2 separate regions of the Homo sapiens genome follow, and region 1 is linked to region 2. Evidence: fine-mapped expression QTL. A gene starts in region 2. The other region holds a variant in brackets. All regions are shown on one strand. Distances are between the middles of the regions.

Region 1 (5,372 bases), 53 kb before region 2:
AAAGCTTCATCAAAAGTAAAAACTGGGCTGGGGCTGGGCACGGTGGAGGAGAGACAGGGTTTCAACATGTTGGTCAGGCTGGTCTTGAACTCCTGACCTCAAGTGATCCATCCACCTCGGCCTCCCAAAGTGCTGGGATTACAGGTGTGAGCCACCGTGCCTAGTTTATGAGCTTCTTACAGGTAGAAAATTTGAGTTTTATATCTTTGTATCTCTATATTTAGCGCAGTGTCTTTTTCCTAATGAATGCTTAATAAATGATTGTTGTTTGGTAATCAGAGAAAAGACAAAAACACTCTCAGACATCAGTACTTCATCAAGGTCAGAGAGCCAAGGTAAAGACAAATGATTTGCAGAAAGCCTCTAAGGAGGGAGGCACTCGCCTCCCACATATAAAAACCATTTATTCTGTTAAGAAATTTTATTTTAAGTCATCTTAAATTCATTTGGGAAGTATAGAAGATATAAATGCCCAATAATCAGAGAAACTGAAAAGCTGCCATGTGGGATACCTTTCCTAAGATTCAACCATGTTTTCTTCTTATTAGAGCACTCCTCTATTTTTCTGTTACTAAAATTTCTAGCTTCCCTTCTACAAAGTGATAATAAAAATCAAACATTAACTTTTCCTCTAAGAAAATCCATGAAAAAACCATGGTCATCATTGGTAATATTCAACTAGTTCAGGTTCTCCTCCCTCTTGGGCACATAATAGGATCATTTCCCCATCCCTTGGGTGGGAGCATGTGACTGATTTTGATCACTGAAATGTGAGTGTACGAGGATGTGTCACTTCAAGAGCCGGAACACACACATGCCCAGGTAGAAGCATATGTTGAGGAGATTTCCATCAGCCTGGACCTCAGAGGAACTACAGTCAGCAGACACACCACAATGGCCACATAGCACGAGTGAAAAAATAAACCTTGCTCTCATAAGCCATTGGGATTTTGGAGTAATGCATTACCTAGCCTACCTTGATTGATACAAAAATCAAGCCTGGAAAAGGGTTCTTAGTTAGGAATCAAGAGATTCTGCTTTGCTGGGTGTGGTGGCTCACACCTGCAATCCCAGCACTTTGGGAGGCTGAGACAGGCGGATCACCTGAGGTTGGGAGTTTGAGACCAGCCTGATCAACATAGAGAAACTCCGTCTCTACTAAAAAAAAATACAAAACTAGCCGGGTGTGGTGGCGCACGCCTATAATCCCAGCTAGGCAGGAGGCTGATGCAGGAGAATTGCTTGAACCCAGGAGGTGGAGGTTGCAGTGAGCCGAGATCACGTCATTGCACTCCAACCTGGGCAACAAGAGCGAAACTCCATCTCAAAAAAAGAAAGAAAAAGAAAGAAAGAAAGAAAGAAAGAAAGAAAGAAAGAAAGAGAGAGAGAGAGAGAGAGAGAGAGAGAGAGAAAGAAAGAAAGAAAGAAAGAAAGAAAGAAAGAAAGAGAAACTCTACTTCTTATCTTAGAGTAGGCTAATCCTCTTCTGCAATATAAGGAATAATAGCAAGAACAATAAAATTGAATCTCAATTCCAGCCTTTCAGGGTGCCTATAAATCAGCAACCAAAGCAAAATACAATTCGTTTTATCTGCAACATATCCAAGTAATACCATGGGTAATAAGCTTTGTTTACTGACTACAACCTTGACAAACACTAGGTTTTACTGAAAACGGCTGCATATCAAATGAATATCTCTAAAGGTCAAATTGTGCTGTTTTGTGTACACTGTTATTCTACTAACCAGTAATAAGGAATGACTAACACACCAAACTTGAAGCAGCAGGTAATCAATGAGATTGTGCACTGAGGCAATCCAAAGTTCAAGTAAGGAAAGCGAGTGTGTATATGGCAGCAGATATTCAGTATAGTCTGGAACAATCCTTGCTTTTGTTTTTTTCTTTTTTTTTTTCTTTTTTACTTAAAGAGATGGGGTCTCACTTATTGCTCAGGCTGTTCTCAAACTCCTGGGCTCAAGTGATCCTCTCGCCTCAGCCTCCCAAAGTGCTGGGGATTATCGTCGTGAGCCTCCACAACCAGCCCAAGTGTCCTTCCTTCCTTCCTTTCTTCCTTCCTTCCCTCTCTCCTTGCTTCCTTTCTCTTTCTTTCTTTCCTTCTTTCTTTCTTTTTCCCTCCTTCCTTCCTTTTTTTCTTTTCTTTCTTTCCTTTTTTCTTTTCTTTTTCTTCCTTCCTTCCTTTCCTTCCTTCCTTTTTCCTTCCTTTCCTTCCTTCCTTCTTTCCTTCCTTTCCTTCCTTCCTTCCTTCCTTCCTTTTCTTTCTTT[C/CTTTT]TTTTTTTTTTTTGAGATGGAGTCCTGCTCTGTCGCCCAGGCTGGTGTGCAGTGGCGCGACCTCGGCTCACTGCAACCTACACTTCCCAGGTTCAAGCAATTCTCCTGCCTCACGTCTCCCGTGTAGCTGGGATTAAAGGTGCACGCCACCACGCCTGGGTAATTTTTGTATTTTTAGTAGAGACGGAGTTTCACCACGTTGGCCAGGCTGGTCTCGAACTCCTGACCTCAGGTGAGCCACCCGCCTTGACCTCCCAAAGTGCTAAGATTACAGGCTCGAGCCACCGCGCCCAGCCCTTCTTTCTTTTTTTTTCTAAACAAATTACAGGGATTTTAGAAATTTAAGAAATCATTATTGCTGATCTTTTTTTTTTTTTTTTTCTGAGATGGAGTCTCGCTCTGTCACCCAGGCTGGAGTGCAGTGGCGCGATCTCGGCTCACTGCAAGCTCCGCCTCCAGGGTTCATGCCATTCTCCTGCCTCAGCCTCCAGAGTAGCTAGGACTACAGGCACCTGCCACCATGCCCAGCTAATTTTTTGTATTTTTTAGTAGAGACAGGGTTTCACCGTGTTAGCCAGGTTGGTCTCGATCTCCTGACCTCGTGATCTGTCCGCCTTGGCCCTCCCAAAGTGCTGGGATTACAGGCATGAGCCATCATGACCAGCCGATCTCTGTCTTTATGTTACCCTGAGGGAATAAGATTTTGGCCTCTGAAAAAAATATTCTACAGCCAACACTAAGAATTGAAGATAACATACAGAAAGTACAGTAGTCCCCCCTTACCTGCCTAGAATATGTCCTAAGACCCCCAGTGGATGCGTTATTTTTTCCTATACACACATACCTAGGATAAAGTCTAATTTGTAAATTAGGCACAGTAAGAGATTAACAACGATAACTAATAATAAAAACAATTATGACAATATGCCAGCATCATTACTCTTGCACTTTGGGGCCATTATGAAGTAAAATAAAGGTTACCTGAACACAAGCACCGTGACACTGTGACAGTCAAGATGGCTACTAAGTAAGCAGTGGGCAGCTAGTGTACACAGCACGGATACAATGGATGAGGGGATGATTCCCATCCTGGAGCAGGACAGAGCAACATTTCATCATGCTGCTCAGAATGGCATGCAATTTAAAACGTATTGTTTATTTCTAGAATTTTCCATTTAATATTTTTGGACCATGGTTGACTGTGCATAACTGGAACTACAGAAAGTGAAACTGCAGATAAAACTGTCTGTCTTAACCACGCTTTAACTCTGCCCTACAACTGGCCTTTCTGTATGTAAGATAATAAATTTCCTTATTACTTAAGCCAAAAAAAAAAATTCTGCCACAAAATTCTTACCTATCAAGCATCAGTAAAGAAGGGCTTTATAGATGCAATGGAACACAAGGCTGGTCTCAGCTCTCTTCTTCTCTTAGGCACATCCAGATAGAGAAACAGAGGCAGCCAGGGATAGTCAGGTATGTTAACTCGCACCTTTTACAAGAACTAAAACTCAAACAGAATACCTTATTCTTCCAGACCAAATAGCTCCTCTTTCATCATCAAAAACACAAACTGTCTGTCCCTCACTTGTCCCTCCATTCCTGGAGACCTGCAGTCAGGACATCTGCTTCAACGTCACAGGGTGTGGCAGGTATTAATGAGCTTTGTTATCACAAGCTCTGTTCACAGAAGGGACATCTGGCAAACAAAACCCAATATTACTGTTTATGATCCTTTCATCTTAGTGCTCACGAGTTAATTTTGAACTCTCAGCATTTTTCCATTTTAGCAGCCTATGCTTAGCAGAGATTTAAAATTCCATACTATGAGGTTTTCTTGGGTTCAGCACCATTCAGAAGCATATGTTTCAATTCTCTTGAGAGGGCCCACTGCAAATTGAAATCTATTTAAAAAAAAATAAAGCGCTGGATAAATTCCCTTGACATAGCCATTGAATTGTGACTCTGATGACCAAATCTTGAAAGCCCAATTGAATTCTAAATCCAGCTTTGCTATTAGATACTGGTAGATCAGAATGTTAGGTCACCCACACAGTTTTCTTTGAACAAAATTCAATTCACCATAATTAACACCAACACCCAGCTCAGTCATAATGTTGAGCTGTGTTTAGGGATTTCTGAAAGCAAAAGGGAACCAAGTACCCTAGGCTCTAAATGGCACAGCCAGGAGAGCTGATGGTTACCCCAGAGACTATGAAATCAGACCTTACTCCAGCCTCCAACAGTTTAAATCATGAGCAACCTTATGAGACTAGAGTCCTGGGAACTCTTTAGTGACAGTCACCTGAAGATTACCCCAGTCAGTAAAAGGTACCACACTAGATTCAGTGAGGAATACAAAGATAAGGCAGTCTAACCAAGCAGGGAAAACATAGAAAGGTACATAAATTAAGGTCACAGAAGGATAAAAATAATACTATACCTGGTTCAAAGAGATCACAATAGGCTAGACCATGAGGGCAAGCTTTAGGGTGGTAGGATTTGAGCAGCACTTGAATGACAGGCAGTATTTAGTACATGAAAAGACAATTCAGGCAGAGAGTTGAGGCAGGAACTACAAAATAAGTAGGAGTGGTCCACTGTGGCTAGAGCAGAAAGTGTCTGGCCAGTAGTTACGGAAGTAAAGCCAGGATAGGATGGGCACAAATTGTGGAGAGCCTTGAATGTGTCCGGCCAAGGAGTCAAGGCTAGTCTAAGAAGTACATTAGAAAAACTAATTTCAGTATGTGGGATCAACAAGAAGGAAGAGAGAATAAGGTTAGAAAACCTGCCAGAAACAATCAAGAGACATGACAACTAAAGACAATGTTTGACTCATAACTGAAACTGAGATTTAAAAAAAGATCTAAAGGACATTTCTGGGACAATTGGGAAACTTAAATATGAACTATATATTGGAAAACAATATTTATTAATGTTAAATTTCCCAACTATGTTAATTGTGTTGTGCATCATTAGAGAATTACATACAATGTATTATATAAGAATATCCTTGCTCTTAGGAGATATTTATTGACATATTTAGGGATGAAAAGTTATGATGTCTGCAACTAATTCTCAAAATCGTT
Region 2 (5,372 bases):
GACATGAAAATAGTGCTGAGCTGTTCTCATGGGGTACAGGAGGGACATGCAGGCTCCATGTAGCACCAGGCCTCTGGCCCTACTGGAGGGGGCATTTTTAGAGACCAAGCTCAGTTATAGAGATCAAGGAGATAAGGTGGTCAGCACATCTAGGTGGGGCTATTTGAAGGGGGAGTGGAAAGTCGGAACTAGCGCTCCGAAAAAAGACACAGGCTAGTACTGGATGGTAAATGCCAGGTGTACCCACAGACACCTGAGATGGGGTGGTGATACAGGACATGACCCCAGGAGGCTGAGAGGGCAAAGGCAGCCAGGACATCAACATGGGAACTGAAGCCCCAGACACTGTCAGAGTTTACATTCAGGCAAGACTGGGGTTTAGGGCCTGGTCTGCCTTCTCAGCCATGACCCAGGCTCTTCTGGCAAGAACACAGGCCCTCCCACCTGTCTGCTGCTCAACACAGCCTTAAACTATTCTTCCAGCTGGTGGTCCCATTTGGCTATAAATCTCCTGACCTACTTCCCACTTGCTTTCTAAGCCCATCAAGAATCCCAACTCATGGCACTGGAAGGACCCAGCACAAGGAGATGCCACAGTGGATGATGACCGTGAAGTCAGTGCCCTCTAGCTAGCACCGAGGAAGCATCCTCACCTTCCTGCCATGAGTGTCCAAGATGCTGTGCCGAGATACATCGATCAGTTCTCCCTCCAGCAGGACACCATTTCCCCTGGGGATGAAAGGGAAAGAAAGGATAGCCAGTTTTGTCAGTCCTCAGCAAATCTCACCCGTGTCTCCTATTTACCCAGCCCTGAGAAGGCTGGGTACTGAGCAGCTCCTTTCCCCGTGCTTCCGACATAGGGATCTCCAAAGGGTCCCAAAGGCTGGGGCATTGCCCAGATGCCAGGAGGAACCTTGTCAGGCTGCCCTAAGATCAAGCTATGGCCCCCTCCTACAAGGCCACTGGGAGTTACTGGAACCAGAGCCTCAGTCTTATCTACAAAATGGGGAGGAAAACAGCTGCCTCACTCTGCTCCTCTGATGTTGACACAAGATCATGTGTGTGAAGGTGTTTTGTAAGCTATTAAGTGATTACTAAATACAAAAGATTTTACTTTTTTATTGGTCCAAATGTGAGGGTAGGTATCTAAGCTGCAATAAACTATTTTCCCTTTCCACCTGTTTTTAAACACTCTCATATTCCTTTTCTCATTCATATCCAGGTGGTCATTAACCCGAGGAAATGGTTATTACTGAGAGGTGAAGAAACCAAAACTCAGAAGTCTGAGACTAGTCCAAGATCACACGGTCCTTCACTGAGGGGAAGTGGACCCCTGGCTTCTCGACTCTGGTTTTCATAAAAGCAGAACGTGGAGGCTTCCTTTTTTGCATCCACAGAAATGGAGAAGCATGGGGACAGCTGAAGATGACAGTGGAATAGGGATGGGAGTGGGAAGTGAAAACTCTACCTAGCTGGTCTCTATCCAATTCTTCCCCACCCCCCACAATTATTTTTCTAAATATTTAACTGACAAAAGACTGTATATATTCAAGGTGCACAACGTGATGATTTAAGTACACACTATGTAATGATTACCACAGATTAATGAACACACCCACCAGACCCCATGCTGTACATTAGGTCCCCAGAAATTGTTTATTCTATAACTGAAAGTTTGTACCTTTGATCATTACCCCATCCCCATCCACTATCCCCTGGCAATCACTGTTCACTGTTCTACTGTTTCTTTTCTTTTGACACAGTCTTGCTCCATCGCCCAGGATGGAGTGCAGTGGCACAATCTCGGCTCACTGCAACCTCCACCTCCCAGGTTCAAGCGATTCTCATGCCTCAGCCTCCCAAATAGCTGGGATTACAGGTATCTGCCACCACGCCCGACTAATTTTTGTATTTTTAGTACAGACAGGGTTTCACCATTAGGCTGGTCTCAAACTCCTAACCTCAAGTGATCCACCCGCCTCGGCCTCCCAAAGTGCTGGGATTACAGGCGTGAACCACAGCGCCTGGTCTGTTCTGCCGTTTCTATGGTTCAACGCTTTTATAGGTTCCATATACGAGATCACACAGTATTTGTCTTTCTGTATCTGGCTTATTTCACTTAGCACAATTCTTCAGCGCAGTTGTAAATGGAATGGTCCCTTCGGCCTCATAACCCTGTGACGACAGGGCCTGGCCCTCCAAATCCTCCTCACCCAGGCAGGCCCTGCTCTGGACCAGCCCGCCCGCTGTTCCCGCCACAGCACGGCCACTGTCCCTTCTGGGGCAGGGCATGAGTCTGTGCAAAAGCAGCGCGGCAAGTAGCTGGAGTTTATAGTTACGCGGGTGGGGTGGGGCCGGAGGTCGGCGTGAGGCGAAGCCCAGCCTTCGGAGACCTGTCTGGGGGTCGGGACCCTCTCTCGAGGGCAGGCGGACAGGCGGGGAGCTTTAAGCCGATCTGTGTCATGGGGTCGCTGGGCGGGCGCGGCGGCAGGGGCGCCGGGAGCGGCGGACTGGAGGGGCGGACTGAAGGCGGAGAGGCGGCTTTGGCAACCCCAGTTTTCCCCCACCCGCATCCCACCCCCCCACCCGATCCTGTTGCGGGGTTCGAGCCGGGGCAGGGGAGGCCGACCCGAGGCCGTGAGCCCAGGCCTACCCCTGGTGGGCGGCGGGGTCCCAGGCCCCTGGCAGCCGGACGCTCTGCACCGCCTTGTTCCGGAGCGCGCCGTCGTGGTAGATGCGGCTCATTCTCCCGACCGCCCGGGCACCCCGGCACAGAGCCGGCGCACTGGGCTGGGGGCGCGGCGCGGGAAGTGCTGCAGGACGCGCGGGGACCCGCGATTCCCAGCCGGCGGATCCGGGAATGGCGCGGCCCGGCCCTCAGGCGTTCCTCGGCGGGATTTAAAGGGACCGAGCTCCATTCCTGCACGCCAGGCCGCGCGCGGCAGGAGTTGGGCTTCCGGGAGGACCCTGGCTGGGGGCTTAGCACAGTGGGGCAGAAAGGCCATGCTTTTCTCTTGTCTCTCTCTCTTCCTCATTCCTAGAGGAAGATCCCTGCCCCAGCACACGCACAAAAGGGAAATTGAGGCCCCAAGATCCTATTATAGAAGATCCTTTGTAGGATCAGCCCGGGAAGGATGGGTTTCTGGGAAGCAGGAATGGAGAACAGCCACTGGGGAGGATTGGGTGGTCAGCTTAGAAGCTGTCCATTATGCCCCGCCCGCGGCCCTACAATGGCTGAGTCAGGTATCCCAGGGATCTGTGACGAGGGAGCTGGGGCATGGGTGTCGGACCAAAGACGCCTAAGTTTGAATCCCAGCTGTGAGCTTGGGCAAGCTCCTCAACCTCTCTGAGCCCATGCTTCTTCGTCTGTAAAATGGGGTCAGTATCAGGGGGATTGTAAAGTTTAATGAGCTCACCCTTTCTACAACATAGCATTGCCCTCCCTCCTTCTTCCTGCACAGCTCCTGAACTCCTCCCTGGCCCCACAATGCCCTTTGCCCAAGTATGTCATAGTCCGCAGGTGCATTTTCCAAGCCTGGTACAGAAGATTCTTCTGACCCTGGGATTGTTGAGGAATCTTTGTTCTTTTGTTTGGCTTCTTCGTGCCAGGCCTCGGGGCAGGTGGGCCCATTCAGGGAGGCCAGGTGTACCCCGGGAGAGGGGGCGGCATTTAAAGGGGGTGGTGGCCAGGCAGGTGCCTAGGAGTCTAGCATGAGCTGTCAATGTTGGAAGAAGAAAGCACCCTCTCCCTTCCCTGCTACACACACACACACACACACACACACACACACACACACACAGACAATGACTTTCTTGGGTCCTAGGCACTTTTGTTTTCAAAGGACCCTTTCTCCATTAAAAATTTTTTAAAAAATTATTATCTTACCACTGGGTTGGCATAAAGATGAATATATGAATTATATATATATATATATATTTTTTTTTTTTTTTTTTTGAGACAGTCTTCCTATGTTGCCCAGGCTGGAGTGCAGTGGTGAATCTTGGCTCACTGTAACCTCTGCCTCCCAGGTTCTAGTGATTCTCCTGCCTCAGCCTCCTGAGTAGCTGGGATTACAGGCACTCACCACCACACCCGACTAATTTTTGTATTTTTAGTAGAGATGGGGTTTCACCATGTTGGCCAGGCTGGTCTCAAGCTCCTGACTTCATGTCACCACCTGCCTCTGCCTCCCAAAGTGCTAGGATTACAGGCCTGAGCCACTGCTCCCAGTCTAAAGTGTTTTCTTCAACCTAAACATATATTTTTTTTTCTGCATCCAATCATCCATTACTAAACATATTTTTAGGAAGAAAGAGCACCTGTAGTCCCAGCTACTCAGGAGGCTGAAGTGGGAGGATCACTTGAGCCCAGGAGTTTGAGTCCAGCCTAGGCAACATAGCGAAACCCTGTCTATTAAAAAAAATTAATGAAATTAAATTTAAATTTTAAAAGAATAAAAACATTTTGTGGACCGCTAAAAGTATGATGGGCCTAATGGATGAGTCAGCCCCACTCCTAGCTGGCCTACCTGGCTGCCCGGTGTATGTCTGAGAAGGAAAAACATAGAAAAGCCCTACTGGAAAGCCCCTCTGGGTAGAACTGTCCTTTGGCCCTCTCTGCTCAAAACCCTCCAGCTGCTCACAGCCACCTGGCTGGCATGTCCTCCTCCTCTTTCCCTTTTCTGTGTCACGTTCCCCCTCACTGTGGCTCCAACTGCACAGCCATCCATGGTAGCCACTAGCCACATGTGGCTACTTAAATTTCGATTCTAACTGATTAAACCTAAATTAAATGTAAAACTCAATTCCTCACTTTCACTAGCCACATTTTTAAGTGCTCAATAGCAACGTGTGTTTAGCGACTACAAGACACAGAACATTTCTTTGTTGCAGAAAGTTGTATTGGACAGGGCTGCTCTAAATCCTCTCAGGAAGAGTCATCTGCTTATTAGGCTCTGCAACTTCACCCCATCGGCACAATCTGCAGGCCAGGCACCAGCAAGACAGAGGAACCCAAAAGAAGAAAAGGAAAATTTTTGGAAAGGTTTTGACATTTATTTCCTAAAAAGCATCAATCATCACGGGAAAAAACCCCAGAATTTTGTTGGACTTTCTTCCATGTATTTTGCAGTTTAATAATGTCTCTATATTAAATTATAAACCACAAGGTACCATGGAGACAGTATCAAGTTATCTTCGATTAACACCATTCAACATTTGATTCCTACACTAATTCCTCTTGCTTTGTGTTCCTCCTCATCATCAAACTTTCCAAAATGTCCAGTTTTTTGTTGTTTGTTTTCTTGAGGCAGAGTCTCACTCTGTCACCCAGGCTAGAGTGCAGTGGTGCAATCTTGGTTCACTGCAACCTC

Which allele goes with the higher level. Alleles are on the strand shown, and positions count from the first base shown. SD is a standard deviation of normalised expression in the study named.
As copies of C replace CTTTT in region 1, the expression in fibroblasts of the gene that starts at base 2,862 in region 2 goes up (moderate effect, 0.43 SD a copy in GENCORD).

The links. PIP is the estimated chance that this variant, and not a neighbour inherited with it, causes the effect. A credible set is the group of variants that fine-mapping cannot tell apart.
Region 1: its variant is the best candidate, but not a certain one, in a credible set for the expression of ARPIN in fibroblasts (GENCORD, PIP 0.54).

What each region holds. Positions count from the first base shown.
Region 1 is chr15:89,857,116-89,862,487 of GRCh38, forward strand. All of the region lies in intron 8 of ARPIN-AP3S2 (ARPIN-AP3S2 readthrough), which reads right to left. All of the region lies in intron 4 of AP3S2 (adaptor related protein complex 3 subunit sigma 2), which reads right to left. Among named protein-coding and RNA genes, the nearest start is that of MIR5094, 9.1 kb to the left of the region's middle. The variant C/CTTTT (reference allele first, on the strand shown) is at 2,284.
Region 2 is chr15:89,910,091-89,915,462 of GRCh38, forward strand. ARPIN (actin related protein 2/3 complex inhibitor) reads right to left here and starts at 2,862. Exons shown (of 6, transcript NM_182616.4): 1 at 2,654-2,862; 2 at 654-729. The coding sequence starts at 2,745. It overlaps ARPIN-AP3S2 (ARPIN-AP3S2 readthrough), which reads right to left and starts at 2,862. Exons shown (of 10, transcript NM_001199058.2): 1 at 2,654-2,862; 2 at 654-729. The coding sequence starts at 2,745.